Linked DNA regions of Homo sapiens. The protein of the gene in region 1 interacts with the protein of each later gene in a biochemical or structural test. Each region holds a gene or a part of one and is shown on either strand. Other genes may lie near its edges.

Region 1 (8,452 bases):
TACTGCTATAGACTCAACACATGTTCTAAGAATAAGGAGTAAGAGAGGAAAGAAAACAGATATTTGCCTAATATACATGTAAATGCATACAACCGTATTCTGAACAAAATAGGGAGGAAATACTCCCAGCAATTCTGGCCCTTGTTTCTGTAACTGGTCACGTGGTTGGAGCTGGTATTTATTATAACTACCTCCCTCTGTCCTGTTCTGTGTTCCTTTCGTCTGCAACAAGCACCTCAGCTGGCTGTGGTTCTTTAAGTGGCAGAGTGACCCAAACATTCATTCCTGAAGGGTCTGAGTCATTCACAGTCCTGCCTGGATTGTATCCTTGTAATTTCCCATTGACTTAATCACAGGGCATGGTAATACTAACAGATGCCCTAAGGAGTATCCTGTACTCCAGACACACTCTTCCTTGCCTCATTGTGGAGCAGTCCAGATCAATTTCCCCTTGGTAGTCCAGATCAATCTCCACAGCCAACACCATCACTCCCCTCTCAGCCTGCTGACCCAGAGGCACAGGGAGCCCAAAGAAGCCAGGTGGCAGCCTTACCCCCCGTTCAATGGAATCACTGTTGTGTCTCCTGGTAGGAGCATTCCTCTCTCTGGAACCAAGACCTCCAGGCCAGCAGAGCATAAAGTCACAGGAACAGGAAGCAACAATTTCGCTAGCGGGTCCCTAGGGGATATGATGCGCAGTGCCACTCCCATTTCCTCCCCTTGATTCCTGGACCCGTGAATCCTGGCTACGGGAGAAACCAGCACCATATATTGGATGCTGATACAGAGTACATAGAGCCTTTTGAAGACCCCTGACCCAGCCCTACAAAGTATTGTCACCTAGCTGGCATTGTAATTGCAACTTCAAAAGACTCTACTGCCCTTCTTTCAAGTCAGCTGCTTCAGGATGGTGGGGAACGTGGTCATTCCCAGTCCCAGGTCAAAGACTCCGGAGACCACTCGTACGAGTCCCAGAGTCCAAAGGCCAGAGAACCTGGAGTTCTGACATCCAAGCGCAGGAGAAGAGCATCCCAGCTCCGGGACAGAGAGCCAGGATTCACCCTTCTTCCAGGCCCCCGGCTGACTGGATGGTGCCTGCCCACATGGAGGGCAGATCCTCCCCACCCAGTTGAGTGACTCAATTGCCAGTGTCCTCCAAAAACACCCTCACAGACACATCTGGGGCAGCCCGATCATTCTACACAATGTCAAACCACTGGGCTTCCCTGTCAGCAGAAAAGGGACAGGCTCAGTGTGTACTGAAGCATAGAGAATAATCAATGCTTTACCATCTACCTGGGTATTCCTTAATCTAGTCAAGTTGACATCCAAAATCAATCATCACAGGTCCACCCCTTACCAACTGGCACCCATAGGCACCCACTGGCATCTTCTTAAACCATACTTAATTTCCAAATAAAGGCAATAACAAGACCGTAGTTCCACTTAGCATGATAGGCGAAACCAGTGGGCTCGTGCTCACCGGCCAATTCCCTGCACATGATCCCAGTGCCACACTTCCTTGGTTGTGAAGTGAGCTCCCTGGAAGCAGTGCTACACGGACAGCGTGACAGTGGGAAAGGTGTTCTGTCAATCAATGGATGGTGACTTTGGCAGAAGCACTGTGTGCAGGGAAGACGAATCTGTATCCAGAATAAGTGCCTGCTCCAGTAAGGACAAAACGCTGCCCCTTCCAAAACAGAAGTGGTCCAATGTGCCTTCCACCAGGTGCAGTGATCATCCCGGGGAATGGGGCCATACTGGAGCTCAGTGTTAGTCTCCGCTTCTGGCAGACTAGCAGCCAGTGGTAGCCATAGCCAGGTCGGCTTTGGTGAGTGGCAGTCCATGCTGCTGAGCCCATGCATCACCTCCATCTCTGCCACCATGACCACTTTGTTCCTGAGCCCACCAGGCGATGACAGGGGTGGCCAGGGAAAGAGGCTGACGAGAATCCACCTAGGTCATCCTACCCACATACCTCATGTCCTGTGCGCACTCGGGAGGTCTATCCGTGTCCTGTGCGCACTCAGGTCTATCCACATACATCTTCCCCCAATTGCTTTTTTGTTTGGTTGGGTTTTTTGATACAGGGTCTCATTCTGTTGCCCAGGCTGGAGCAATCACAGCTCACTGCAGCCTCAACCTCCTAGGCTCAAGTGATCCTCCCACCTCAGCCTCCCAAGTAGCTGGGACTGCAGGCATGAGCTACCACGCCCAGCTAATTTTTTATTTTTGTAGAGATGGCGGGGGCGGGGAGTCTCACTATGTTGCTCAGGCTGGTCTCGAACTCCTTGGGCTCAAGCAATCCTCCCACCTTGGCCTCCCAAAGTGCTGGGATTACAGGTGTGAGCCACTATGCCAGGCCCCCAGCTTTCTTTGTCACCAATCTTCCAATCATACTCTTTCCAAGTCCCCAAATCCCTGACCATCCAGCCAAATCATCAGGCACAGCCCATGGATCAGTATATAATCACTCATCTGGCCATCTCTCCTTCGAAGCAAGGTGCACAACCAGGTGCACTGCCCGAAGCTCTGCCAGGGAGGATTTCCCTTCACCCCCATCCTTCAGAGGTGTCCCAGCAAGGGGCTATAGTGCTGCAGCTGTCCACTTTCGGGTTGTGCCTTCATATAGTGCAGAGCCATCTGTAGCCATCTGCAAACCAGGCTGACTAAGTCTTCTCTTCCACTGTCAATCGATCAGAGGGAACTCCCCAGGAGACCATAGATACAGGCTGGAGAGAGAAGGCAGTGGGCAAAGTAAGAACCATGGGCCTTTGGACCACTTCCTCATGTCACTTACTTGTGCCTTCAGGACCTGCTCAGACCTGATCCCATATATACCACTTCCTCTCGATGGCAGCGTTCTGCCACACATGCCCAATGTCTGGTTTGGTCGGTCAGATCATAGATAACACCCACTTCATGATGGGCAGCTCAGGTCACATGGCAACTTCGTGGCTGATGGTCAAACATTAAGTCTCTACTAGGGTCCAGTATTAGGCCAAGAGCTGTCTCTCAAAAGGAATGAAGTTATTTGTGGATGATGGCAGGGCCTTGCTCCAAAATCCCAAGGCCTGTACTGCGATTCATCTACAGGGGCCTGCCAAAGGCTTTAAGCAGCCTCCCTGTCTGCCGCTGACCTCAACCACCACTGGATCTGCTGGTGGCCCAAGTGGCAAAGCAGGTTGCACAGCAACCTGGACCTGTTGCAGTCTTCTGCTACGGGCCCCACTCAAAACTAGAAGCGTTAGGGTGACTCAGCAAATGGGCTGGAGTAACACACCCAAATGAGGAATGTGTTGCCTCCAAAGTCCAAACAGGCCCACGAGGCATTGTGCCTCTTTCTTGGTTGCAGGAGGAAAGCTGTAACAACTTATTCTTCACCTTAGAGGGGATACCTTCACAGGCCTGACACTACTGGACCCCGAGAAATTTCACTAAGGGAGAAGGTCCCCGAATTTCAGTAGAATTTATTTCCCATCGCTTGACATGTAAATGTCCTACCAATAAGGCTACAGTGGTTGCGACTTCTTGCTCACTAGGTCCAATGAAGCATGATGACATCAATGTAATGGACCAGCATGAGACCCTTTTTTTTTTTTTTTTTTTGAGACAGGGTCTTACTCTGTTGCCCAGGTTGGAGTAAAGTAACACAATCACTGCTCACTGCAAGTCTTGACCTCCTAGGCTCAAGCGATCCTCCCACCTCAGCCACCCAAGTAGCTGGGACCACAGGCACACACCATCATGCCTGGCTAATTTAAAAAAAAAAAAAATTTATAGAGATGATGTCGGCCCGGGCGCAGTGGCTCATGCCTGTAATCCCAGAACTTTGGGAGGCCAAGGCGGGTGAATCACTTGGTGTCAGGAGTTCAAGACCAGCCTGACCAACATAGTGAAACCCTGTCTCTACTAAATACAAAAAATTAGCTGGGTGTGGTGGCGCATGCCTGTAATCCCAGCTACTCAGGAGGCTGAAGCAGGAGAATTGCTTGAACCCGGGAGGCGGAGGTTGCAGTGAGCCGAGATTGCACCATTGCACTCCAGCCTAGGCAACAAGAGCAAAAAATCCATCTCAAAAAAAGAGAGAGAGAGAGAGAGAGATGACGTCTCACTGTGTTGCCCAGGCTGGTCTCAAACTCCTAAGTTCAAGCGATCCTCCTGCCTCGGCCTCCTGAAGTGCTAGGATTACAGGAGTGAGCCACCGTGCCCAGCCCCAGTATGATATCTGTGGAAGGGAAAGGTGATCAAGATGACTGTGAACTAAACTGTGACATAGGGCTGGAGAGCTGATATACCCATCAGCCCAGACCGCCAAGGGGCATTGCCGGCCTTACCAGCTGGATGCAAACTGCTTCTGCTGGGCCTTATGGACAGGTATAAAGAGAAGGGCATTCGTCAGATCAACAGCTGCATGCAGTAGCAGGGACCAGAGATGTGTGAATTTTGCAGTCACCACTTGGTTAAGTTTACAATAATCCACTATCAGTTTCTAAAGTCCATCTGTCTTCTGCACAGGCCAAATCGGAGAGTTGAATGGGGATGTGGTGGGGGTCACCACCCCCGCCTCCTCCAAGTCCTTGATGGTGGTGCTAATCTCGGCAGCCCCACCCCAGGGATGCAATGTTGCTTTTGATGTACTATTTTCCCAGGCAGAGGCAACGCTAATGGTTTCCACTTGGCCTTTCCCACCATAACAGCCCTCACCGCACAAGGCAGGGAACCAGTGTGTGGATTCTGCCAGGTGCTAAGTATGTCAACTTTGAATCTGGAACCAGGAAATAACCCCAGGATGGGTTCAGGGATCCACGGGAGCCACCAGGAGTCAAACCTAAGCTAAAACTCCATTGATCACCTGACCTCCATAAGCCCCTTCTCTGACTAGTGGGCCACAGTGAGTGATATTTTTGGTTTCCTGGAATCAGTATCAGTTCAGTAACCAGTTATCCCCGAACAATCTAATTATTTCCCTTTCCTCAATACATATTCACTCTGGTAAAAGGTCACAGGTCCCTTTGGGGAAGGCTAGGAGAAAAATTAATAGCATAAACTTTCTCTAGTGTACTGAGGTCCTTCTTCAAAGGGATCCAGCTTCCAATTCATTCATTCATTCATTCACTTATTCATTCACTTATTCATTCATTCGTTCACTTATTCATTCATTCGTTCACTCATTCATTCATTCACTCATTCATTCATTCATGGGGGCTTAGTTGTGTAAACTGGGTTAAGTCTGGGAAGTTGATTGAGGGCTGTGATTTTCTGTTTTAATTATTTTTCTGTTTTAATTATTCAAGTTAGACTTTTTTTCATTTGACCTGTAAGTTTCTGCTTATACAGAAAACTTAAAAGAATCAAGTAACTTATAAGATCAAGTAAGAATTTCACGGGTTTCCTGTCTATTTCACTTCTAGGAACACCATGATTAACTATCCAATGCCATAGATCCACACAAGTCAGACTATTCTGACGGCAGCTTTGCCTCTGCCGTCCATTAGGTAACCACACTCACCTTGCCTTGGATGGCTGAGTACTGCCACTTGGCCGCTGCACTCCAAATGCAATTACTCCCGTTGCATTTAAGTTTTCCATTTGAGTGACTGCGGCTCCCACTGTAAGGGCTGGATCACGGAGCTCTTCAGGGATGCTGGGGCCCCCTCACAAATCTATTTCTCAACGTATGCGTGAAAGATCTGTCTTCTGAACCTTCCCAGTGTGGGTGAGTAGCTTTTAAGAGACAAATCCACTCCAGCATTCCAATGTCCCTAAGCCTTTGAATCCCTAACTCTACATGAAACCTAAGCCTATGAATCCCTAACTCTACATTAAACCAAAGGAGACCCAGAAACTCCAACTTACTCACAGTGGGTCATCCTTTGATCCATGTTCCAGTCAGCCAACCAAACAGATCTCTTCTTAACCCCCTGAGCTACAACATCAAGTGCAGAATCTCCGCTTAGTGGGCCCATATCCATAAATTCGGCCAGATCCAACTTCATGTTCGTTCCACATCCTAATATCCACTCCCACACATGCTCCCTTGGTGTCTGCTTGTATAAATTAGAAAACTCAAGTGGTTCTCTTGGTGTGGAGTGCAGCTCCTCACTCTGACCTTGGAAAGGGTGTGACCAGATTGGCCACACTCTGACTGTCTGGCAAGGTGTGTTCACAACTGGGGCACCCGTCAAGCCCTTGTCACAGGTAGGTTTTTCCAACCCTGGAATCCTATATTCCTACTCAGCAGTCATTTCTCAAGTGTGGAGTTTGCATCCTGATATTTTCTTCATCTTGTGCTCAAATCACCCAATGCCTCCCTAGTTTTCCAAGAGACGCCCAAGGGTGGCAGAGGTTCTTGGATTCCTCCACCCATCGCCTACGCAGTAAACTCAAGAGGGTCAGGCTAAGCTTCAGGTCAGATTCAGAGCTTGTTGACAAACCATTCTCACAGTCACATCTCCTGACACCCAGCCCTGCCACAAATCCCATGCCTGCATTGCACAAGGTCTGGACCTCAATGGCAGGCAAGGCTGGGCTGTGCCTTGGCGGATTCTCTTCCCCATCTCCAAGAAAGGCCCCGAGAGCCTAAGCCTGTTGTTGATGTGGTCTGTCTCATGACCACTGGACTCATTTATTTTTAACGTTGGGCAATGAACAGAACTTTTAAAACACAAAGCAAACAGGCAGCTTCCCAAAGGTTTCAGGGGGTTGGCAGCAGGACAGATCCCCCAATGTGCTGTTGGGTTTTGCCATCCTCCCTTTGTCCAAGCAAGGAAGGAGCCTCAAGCCCAAGTCAGAAAGGACGTACATCTCCCGACTCTTGCCCCGCATAGAGTAACAGTCAACCTCTTTGAGATGTGATGCTTCCTTTAAATGCTTCTTAGGAAGAAGCTACAGATGACCTGACATCTTGTATTTGCTTCAAAATAATCCAGCGTGTGTGTGTATGTGTGCATATATGTGTGTGCATATGTATGTGTGTGTACACATGTGCACATCTTCTGTGAGCATAAGTATGCATGTGCATATGTGAGTATGTGTATGTGTGTGCATGCGAGGTGAGGAAACCTGATCGCTCATTATACTCTGCCTCTAACTTTGGTGTGTTTGACATTTTCCATAATAACAAAAAATTTCACTAAAAAAATGAGCCCATGCTTCTTGAAGAAAAGGCTCAGGTGGTGGAGGTGACAAACTTACTGGTGAAGGGCTTGGGTGCCAAGTCTGGATTCGAGTTTTGGCTCCACCATTCCCTTGCCGCGAGACCTTAGCCAAGTTACCTGCAATCCTCAGCAGAATGGACATGGAGGCAAAACCCACTTCTCAGGGTCCTCAGGAAGCCCATGAGTCAATGCGTCAAGGACTCAGATCAGAGCCAGTACTCGCACGCACCGTGAAACCATGAAACCATTTCCCGCTATTATTATGCTTAGGATTCAAACAAAGTCACGTCCATAAAGCACTCTGTAGCACAGAGCCGGGCACCTGGCTGCCAGTGGAACTTTAGACTGGGGGAGATGTTATCAGATAACTGGGGGAGGGGAGAGCACTCACTGAAAGTCCAAAATCGAAGTCCCTTAGAGTCTGGATTTCACTGATCTAGTGTTGAGGGCTGGGGAGAGGATAACACACCCCTGGGCAGACTGAGGCACACCTGTACCTGACCTTGTGCTGTCGTCTGATAAAATTTTTCAGAACCAAAAGATACACTGAGTCATGCACACCAGCTACAACCTATTTCTCGAGAAAAATTGATACAAAATGCCCAGACGAACTCATGAACACCGTAAGAATCAGAGGTTTCGCTGAATTTGAAAATGCGTCTGCAGGCAAGTTTCCATCCACCCAGGAGGAGGGGCAGGTGCAGGAAGGGAGCACGGCACACACCATGGGGGTGGGAGGGCAGCGCTGGCTTCCACGGGCTAGGCCCCCACCCCATTCCCCAGCTCTGGTGAAGAAATTCAACATCTGTGATGATTCCAAGGGGGTGAGATTCTGCAGCAGCCCAGAGGGACCCACTGAAGGGTGGATCCAGCCTTACTACAGCAGCCCAAGAAACGGCCTCACCCAGCTCCAAAGTGACATCACCAGGGCCCCAGGCAGGCCCACCCCTTCCTAAGAGCCCTGAAACCCACTGATTCTTCCCAGGGCCAGGTCTCTCTTAAGCCGGCATGGCACCCGCCTTGCTCCCTGCTCGGGGCTGTCTGAGCCACTGGGGCCAACATGCTACTGCTTTTGTTTTCTCTGCTGCTAGGGTGGTAGCCAGACTGGAAAAGGAAGACTTGTAAAGTGATTGCCTTAGTCCACTCCACACCTCCCCAACCGCACGCGCGCACACACACACACACACACACACACTCACACTCTCACACACACACACACACTCCATCTACTGGGTAAAGTGCTCCCTGCAGAAGAAAAGCAGCTGTAAGAGAGCAGGAGTGCTTTAAATGAT
Region 2 (7,323 bases), on another chromosome or scaffold:
CCTCAGGTGATCCGCCCGCCTTGGCCTCCCAAAGTGCTGGAATTACAGGTATGAGCCACCATGCCTAGCCATGTTTCGGATTTTTTTTAATTAACTTTTGGAATATTTGCAGTACGTTTATCACTTGATCATCCCTAATCCAAAACTCTGAAATGCTCCAGTGAGCATTTCCTTTGAGCATCATGTCAGTACTCAAAGAGTTTGGGATTTTGGATTTTCAAATTAGGAATGCTCAACGTGTATTAACATTTTATCTATTCTCTTTAATCTTGGAAAAGTGTAGTCTTTTCTGGTTTGACAACTCTTACCATACAACTCTTAAATAGTAATACATCTAAAAAAAATAATTTCTAGAATCCCTTCCTTTATAATGAAATAATAAACCTTTGTGCTTTTCCTGGGGCTCTCTCTGAGAAATCTCAAAAGTTTTCTGGGTGAATTTCTTCTTCTAAATTTTTAATTTGATCTTAAAAAGACAAAAGGAGTTGTCAGAGGAGAGTTGAATATTTGATTAGTGTAGGATTCGTGGGTATCAGAAAAACTATTTGGTTATCAATTTAATTGAAGTGACAAAACATTTAGAAGTAAACATAGAAAGTGACATGGTTGTAAATAACCACAGCTCTTTCATAAATAGGGAACCTTTTCTCTTTAGTCTTTTTTTCTTCTTTTTTTCCCTTCTTTAGTCTTTTTTTTTTTTTAAACAGACCTAATAAAGTCAACAGAATCTCTGCTGTCTAGGCTGATTACAAGGAAGGTAAAGAATAACTTTTTATCCAGTGTAATGGCTCTGAGGAAAAAAAACTCTCATAAGCGAAAGCATTAAACAGTAAATTAAGAAAGTAATTCCATACAAACTGAGTGACCTTTGCTAGAATATTAACACCTTTTATAGCTTATTTTAACCCAAGTGTTTTAAATCAAAGCAGATAAAATTCAGTTTCCAAGTTTTATCTTTCATTGTGCTTTTTCAGTTTTCTGGAACAAACTGACATTTTAGGACAAAATGTGTCTCCCCCAGGTTCTCTAAGATCCCCTAATTGGGTCTGCAAGGTAAAAATAATTTTCATGATTATACTAAGAATTATTTATTTTAATATGCAAATATTGTTCAAATAAAGATTATCTTGGTGTTAATTTTTAATATGGTAAATATCAAAACACACAAGAAAAACTCCAGGATTGTCAGTGTTTTATGAGTTTAAAGGTAACACTGACCAAAATGTTTGAAAGCCACTAAACTACTTTTTTTCCTTGAAGCAAAAGCAATTACAGTTTTTATTTCTGTCACTGTTATTCCTAGTGTAGTTGCAACCACTTATGTTAATTATATCTTTTAATCATAGTAACTTCTATTTCATAAAGGAAATTGGGAGCAGGGAGATGGGAAACTGGGAGATGTCATACACAAGCATTGTCTACTGTTTTCAGTTACCTGAAGATTTTGGAAATTATCTTCAAGATGATGTTTTTCAAAACATAAATACTGTTGAATAAATGACTAAATTTAGTTGAACACAGATTTCCGTTTTCATACTCTTAAACATCATGAAGGAATAATACTAGCTTATTTGGCTAGTAAACCTCTATACATTAGGAAAAACAAACCCAAGTAGAGTAAGTGTATTAAGCTTTACACTGATAATAGGGAGAAGATGTTTTGGTTTTTTTTAAACTAAAGGTATTAGTCTCATTTACCAAAGATTTCACTTAATTATGTAAACTTGGATTCTTAAAATGATTCTGATTCTTGTAATACGTTTTTTCAAAAGTTTAATATAGTTTAAAGTATATTTTTCAAAAGTGCAAGTTCAATTTCTTTACTTTCTGAGATTTTAGGAATATTTACCTTGATAACATTTCTCTTTTATTCATCTTTATAAACAAATTTGAATAGAATTCCTTTAAGAGACTTTGTAATTTAATGTGTTAATACTTCCGTAGGGGCCGGGCGCGGTGGTTCACGCCTGTAATCCCAGCACTTTGGGAGGCCGAGGCGGGCGGATCACGAGGTTAGGAGATTGAGACCATCCTGGCTAACACGGTGAAACCCCGTCTCTACTAAAAATACAAAAAAAAATTAGCTGGGTGTGGTGGCAGGTGCCTGTAGTCCCAGCTACTCAGGAGGCTGAGGCAGGAGAATGGCGTGAACCCGGGAGGCGGAGGTTGCAGTGAGCCGAGATTGTGCCACTGCACTCCAGCAAGCCGAGATTGCGCCACTGCACTCCAGCCTGGGCAACAGAGCGAGACTGCGTCTCAAAAAAAAAAAAATGCATTTCTCAGAGGCTTAGACTTGTCTTTCACTCTTCCTTAAGCTCTTTTCCTAGATACCTGCACAGTTCACTATCTTTATATCTTTACTAAGATACCATCTAATTGGGGTATCTAAAGTAGGCCTGTCTAATAAGCCTGTCTTAAAGTATCTAAAGTAATCATCTCTGGACCCTTTATCTTGCTGATTTTTTCCTTTTTAGTACTAAATGCGTAATATTTATTTGCCTCCCCATAGTGAAAGCAGGGGCTTTTATTTCCGCATTTCCAACAGAAACATGACAGGCATCTAGTAGGCACTAAATGTTTGCTGAATAAATGAATGAAGTGAGATTACAGAGAAATGGGGAGAGAGATTATGAACAGTAATACATTTTTATATGCTTTAAAGCTATAAATTATCTTTCTTCTCCAACATTTTATAGGGAAATTCCCTGTGTGGGAAAATCTCCGGCCCATGCTTGAATTTCTACCGGTTAAATATTTTAAGGAGTAAATATTCCTTAACAAGTTAAGACCCTGGGATAAGGTTGTCATTTAATTTTTTAATATGTAAGATATTTTGGGAATGAAGGGATTTGAATTAGAGATAATGTTTGGAACACTAATTATATAGAGTTAAGCAGCCCCAGGTCAGATGCCACTATTGTAAACACCTCAGGCAATCATGGGAGAATGAAAGATTGGATTATCTTGAGAGGTAGACAGCAAAAAACATTTATAGAGCGAGGGAAATGGAGGGGAGGAAAGGACTGAGACAATTTTATATTACTAAGAGTTGGCAGGCAGATATGATTTACCTTTCCCTAAGGTTCTACTTCTTGTGTTGGCCTGGGAGGAGGAAAGAGAAGCTAATTTTTTAAATCCCTCAACTAGGAAAACAGTCCTGTGTCTTTGACATCCATTCTGGAATTAGAGTCCCTCTTATGTACCAGGCTTGGCTGTGGTGCTGGTAGTAAATACAGTGGTGGACAAAGTTTCATATTCAAGCACTGCCTCCTATCCCTGCTTTATTTTTCATTTCCTGATTTTGAAGTTTGAATATTAATAATTTCATTGTCTTGTAGGGGATGAAAGAACTATGGTCTTTGTTGAAACTAAGAAAAAAGCAGATTTTATTGCAACTTTTCTTTGTCAAGAAAAAATATCAACTACAAGTATTCATGGGTGAGTAGATGAATATAATTACCTATTAGGGGAATGACTTCTATTTGGTATTTAAGAAACATCAGTTTATATAACTAATATGATATAATCCTAGGATTGGGATTCAGAATTCTCTCAGATCTAAACTGTTATTCTCCTTTATATGAGGAAAAGGATAATACCCAGGAGTACTAAACTATTATTTTTCATCCTCATTCTTAGTTTTTAGAACTAAGTGGTTGTGGTGGGTAAGATAAAGGTCTGCCTTACTCTCAAAATAAGGAGTGGAAATTTCTCAAGAGATCTCACTTAAGGATCTCTGGCCCCTTATCAAATTTTCCTTTGCTAAATCTAATCTTTCTTAGAGCTTTTTAAAATTGGAGTGCTTTAAAATGTCATATTAATACCGTTTTATGGGCACTTCATTAGTAGATCCTAAAATATCACGTAGTATATAGTGTTGTGAAATTATACTTTAAAAATATGTTTTTAAGCAAGCATTCTAATCAAGTAGTTGTATATTTTATGTCAAGACTATAAAGCATAGAGATTATAATAGGATTTGATTTTTGTCAGACTTGAGATTGTAGTCTGTCTCTACATATTAGCTGTTACTTTACCTCATTTGCAAATGGGGATAATTTTTGCAACTCAAAGTATTATATTGAGGATTAAATAAAATGGTAGCTTGGAAGGAATTAGTATAGTACCTGGTATGTAAGAAGTGAACATTAATGTTAAATGCTGCTATTCTTTTTTTTTTTTGAGAAAGTCTTGCCCAGTCATCCAGGCTGGAGTGCAATGGCACGATCTCAGCTCACCTCTGCTTCCCCGGTTCAAGTGATTCTCCTACTTCAGCCTCCCTAGTAGCTGGAATTACAGGTGCATGCCACCATGCCCAGCTAATTTTTTGTATCTTTAATAGAGATGGTGTTTCATCATGTTGGCCAGACTGGTCTCGATCTCCTCACCTTGTGATCCACCTGCTTCAGCCTCCCAAAGTGCTGGGGTTACAGGTGTGAGCCACTGCGCCCAGCCAAATGCTGCTATTCATACTATTATTAAAAAGAAATTTGTATGTTGAACTTTAATGATTCACTTTAATGATTTTAAGAGTGGTTCTAATAACATGCTTTCTTTTCTTTCAAGTGATCGGGAACAGAGAGAGCGGGAGCAAGCTCTTGGAGATTTTCGCTTTGGAAAGTGCCCAGTTCTTGTTGCTACTTCAGTAGCTGCCAGAGGGCTGGATATTGAAAATGTGCAACATGTTATCAATTTTGATCTTCCTTCTACCATTGATGAATATGTTCATCGAATTGGGCGTACTGGTCGTTGTGGGAATACTGGCAGAGCAATTTCCTTTTTTGATCTTGAATCGGATAACCATTTAGCACAGCCTCTAGTAAAAGTATTGACAGATGTAAGTTAAACTTTTATGATGGAATGGATAGTTTTCTTACTTTGTTGTTGAAAGTAGACATTTTATGCATGTGTATATAACAAGTAAACTTTTCCAATATTTAATACTTTATGTTGCATATGAAGTCAATTTTTTTTAAAGGCTCAACAGGATGTTCCTGCATGGTTGGAAGAAATTGCCTTTAGTACATACATTCCTGGCTTCAGTGGTAGTACAAGAGGAAACGTGTTTGCATCAGTTGATACCAGAAAGGTTAGTAGAAAGGAAAACTTGAGAACTTGTCTTCTAGTTACTCTTTGTAAATGTTGTGCTTAATATTGTGAAGTAACTATAATATTTAATAATCAAGCCATTGTTTTCGTGCCTGGAAGGTAGCTACTTTATTATTTCATTAACATTTTATGTATATACATATTTTTGGTTTTAAAGGTCAGGAATTAACTTTGAGATTTATGCCTAAACAGTCTCCTTTCCCAGATTTTAAATTTTAATTTGGAATCTTTTAAACTTCTGATGGAATTATTTAATTTTTGAATTCTGACAACATTAATTAATATAAAATACAGGACCTGTTGGGGTTACAAGTCTTTTCTTTTTCTTTTCTTTTTTTTTTTTTTTGAGATAGTGTCTGGCTCTGTTGTCCAGGCTGGAGTGCAGTGGCATGATCTTGGCTCACTGCAACCTCCGCCTCCCAGGTTCAAACAATTCTCATGCCTCAGCCTCCAGTGTATCTGGGATTACAGGCATGTGCCACCATCTTAGCTGGTTTTTTTTTTTTTTTTTTTTGTATTTTTAATAGAGACAGGGTTTCACCATGTTGGCCAGGCTGGTCTCAAACTCCTGGCCTCAAGTGATCCACCTGCTTCAACCTCCCAAAGTGCTGAGATTACAGGCGTGAGCCACTGCGCCCAGCCACGAGGCTACAAGTCTTTTCTGGTATGTCAGGTTTTTATAGGCTGAACACCGCCTTTATTCAGAAACAATGAGCATGTTAATTAAATATTTATGCTGATTCATTGAGTGTAGTGCATTAAGTTTTCCCCACTTGTCAAAACTATTGACTTAAAAAATATTTTTCTTGAAACATTTTGTGCAATTTAGATTTCCTCATTTGACAGGAGCCTTTTTTCAGGTGAATCAGATTTAGTGAGAATAAAGTTCTTTGATTATTTGGGGAAGACATGGTAGATACTTTGAGTCCTTGCTCTCAGTCTGAGTGATGTAACTTTAAAGCTGTCATAAAATTAAATGTTTGTTTGTTTCTTTTTTTTTTTTTTTAAATAATTACCAGGGCAAGAGCACTTTGAACACAGCTGGGTTTTCTTCTTCACAAGCTCCCAATCCAGTAGATGATGAGTCATGGGATTAAAGCCAAAACATCCTTCAAGTCTGTGGTTTTGATGCAGAGAAGAAAATAGTTTTGATTTTTGAGTTTTTAACAGAAGTATAAAACTTAACATTCTCATAGCTCCTGTCCTTGTATTCTCACTCCTACACTTAAAAAAAAAATCCTTACTGACTAGTTATGTGAGATGCTAAAACTTACAACATTGCAGTTACTGATACAAATGGTGTTAACTGGGAATATTAAAGCATTCTAAATGTCTTTCTTATTTCTGGTATATTCTTTAGGGGGCTTAGACATGTTTAATGTTTAAATGCCAAGTCTTACTATAGTGTTTATTGATCTTATAAAACAAGCAAATAGGATATGATACACTTTTGGTTAAAAATTACTGGGTCTCATTTTTACTTGAGTCTTTAAAACAGTAGTGTGTCACTATAATGTGATAATCTTTAAGAGAAAGTAGAATACTTAAGCCTTTCAAAGTGATTTTGATTTTTAGATCATCAGATGTATGATGAAAATGGTTAAATGTTTGTGATGGGAGCTCTGTACTCAATGGCATAACAATGTTTATTTTTATAATATACAATCTTTCCTTGAAATAAAGGATGAAACACTTTTCCCTTAAGTTTTCCATCAGCACTTTAAATTTTTCTTTGTTGCATATCCTAGCCCAAACTCCTATATTTTTGAAACTGTTTTTTTGTGTCTTGCGTAACCAGTGCAGTGAACAAAGTCTTACATAAATTAAATATTAATGTATAAACATTACTGCACAGATGTGGCAATGAAAATCAATCTTAGAACTCAAACCCGTTTATCAACAAAAAACAATGCTGCTTACTCTTTCCATAAGTTTTTGATTCATATTTTAAGATTGATGAAAGAACCCTGTCTTTCTTCATTTTCCATTATATATCTTGAACTTACTATGCCTAGAATAATGAAGTTCTTTTTTTTTTTGAGACGGAGTCTTGCTCTTGTTGCTAAGGCTGGAGTGTAATGGCGTGATCTTGGCTCACTGCAACCTCTGCCTCCCGGGTTCAAGCAGTTCTCCTGCCTCAGCCTCTCCCGAGTAGCTGGGATTACAGACACGCGCCACAATGCCCAGCTAATTTTTAGTAGAGACGGGTTTCAC

What was found. The genes of interacting proteins can lie anywhere in the genome.
Region 2: the proteins of SPSB1 (region 1) and DDX4 interact in a test that uses a peptide from one of them, tested with the Homo sapiens proteins (one study listed by BioGRID).

What each region holds. Positions count from the first base shown.
Region 1 is NC_000001.11:9,295,121-9,303,572, reverse strand, and holds part of SPSB1 (SPRY domain-containing SOCS box protein 1), read right to left. Parts: intron 1-8,452. UniProt on the Homo sapiens protein: Substrate recognition component of a SCF-like ECS (Elongin BC-CUL2/5-SOCS-box protein) E3 ubiquitin-protein ligase complex which mediates the ubiquitination and subsequent proteasomal degradation of target proteins.
Region 2 is NC_000005.10:55,810,335-55,817,657, forward strand, and holds the end of DDX4 (probable ATP-dependent RNA helicase DDX4), read left to right. Parts: intron 1-3,338; coding exon 3,339-3,438; intron 3,439-4,566; coding exon 4,567-4,837; intron 4,838-4,978; coding exon 4,979-5,089; intron 5,090-6,128; coding exon 6,129-6,206; 3' UTR 6,207-6,823; downstream 6,824-7,323. UniProt on the Homo sapiens protein: ATP-dependent RNA helicase required during spermatogenesis. Required to repress transposable elements and preventing their mobilization, which is essential for the germline integrity.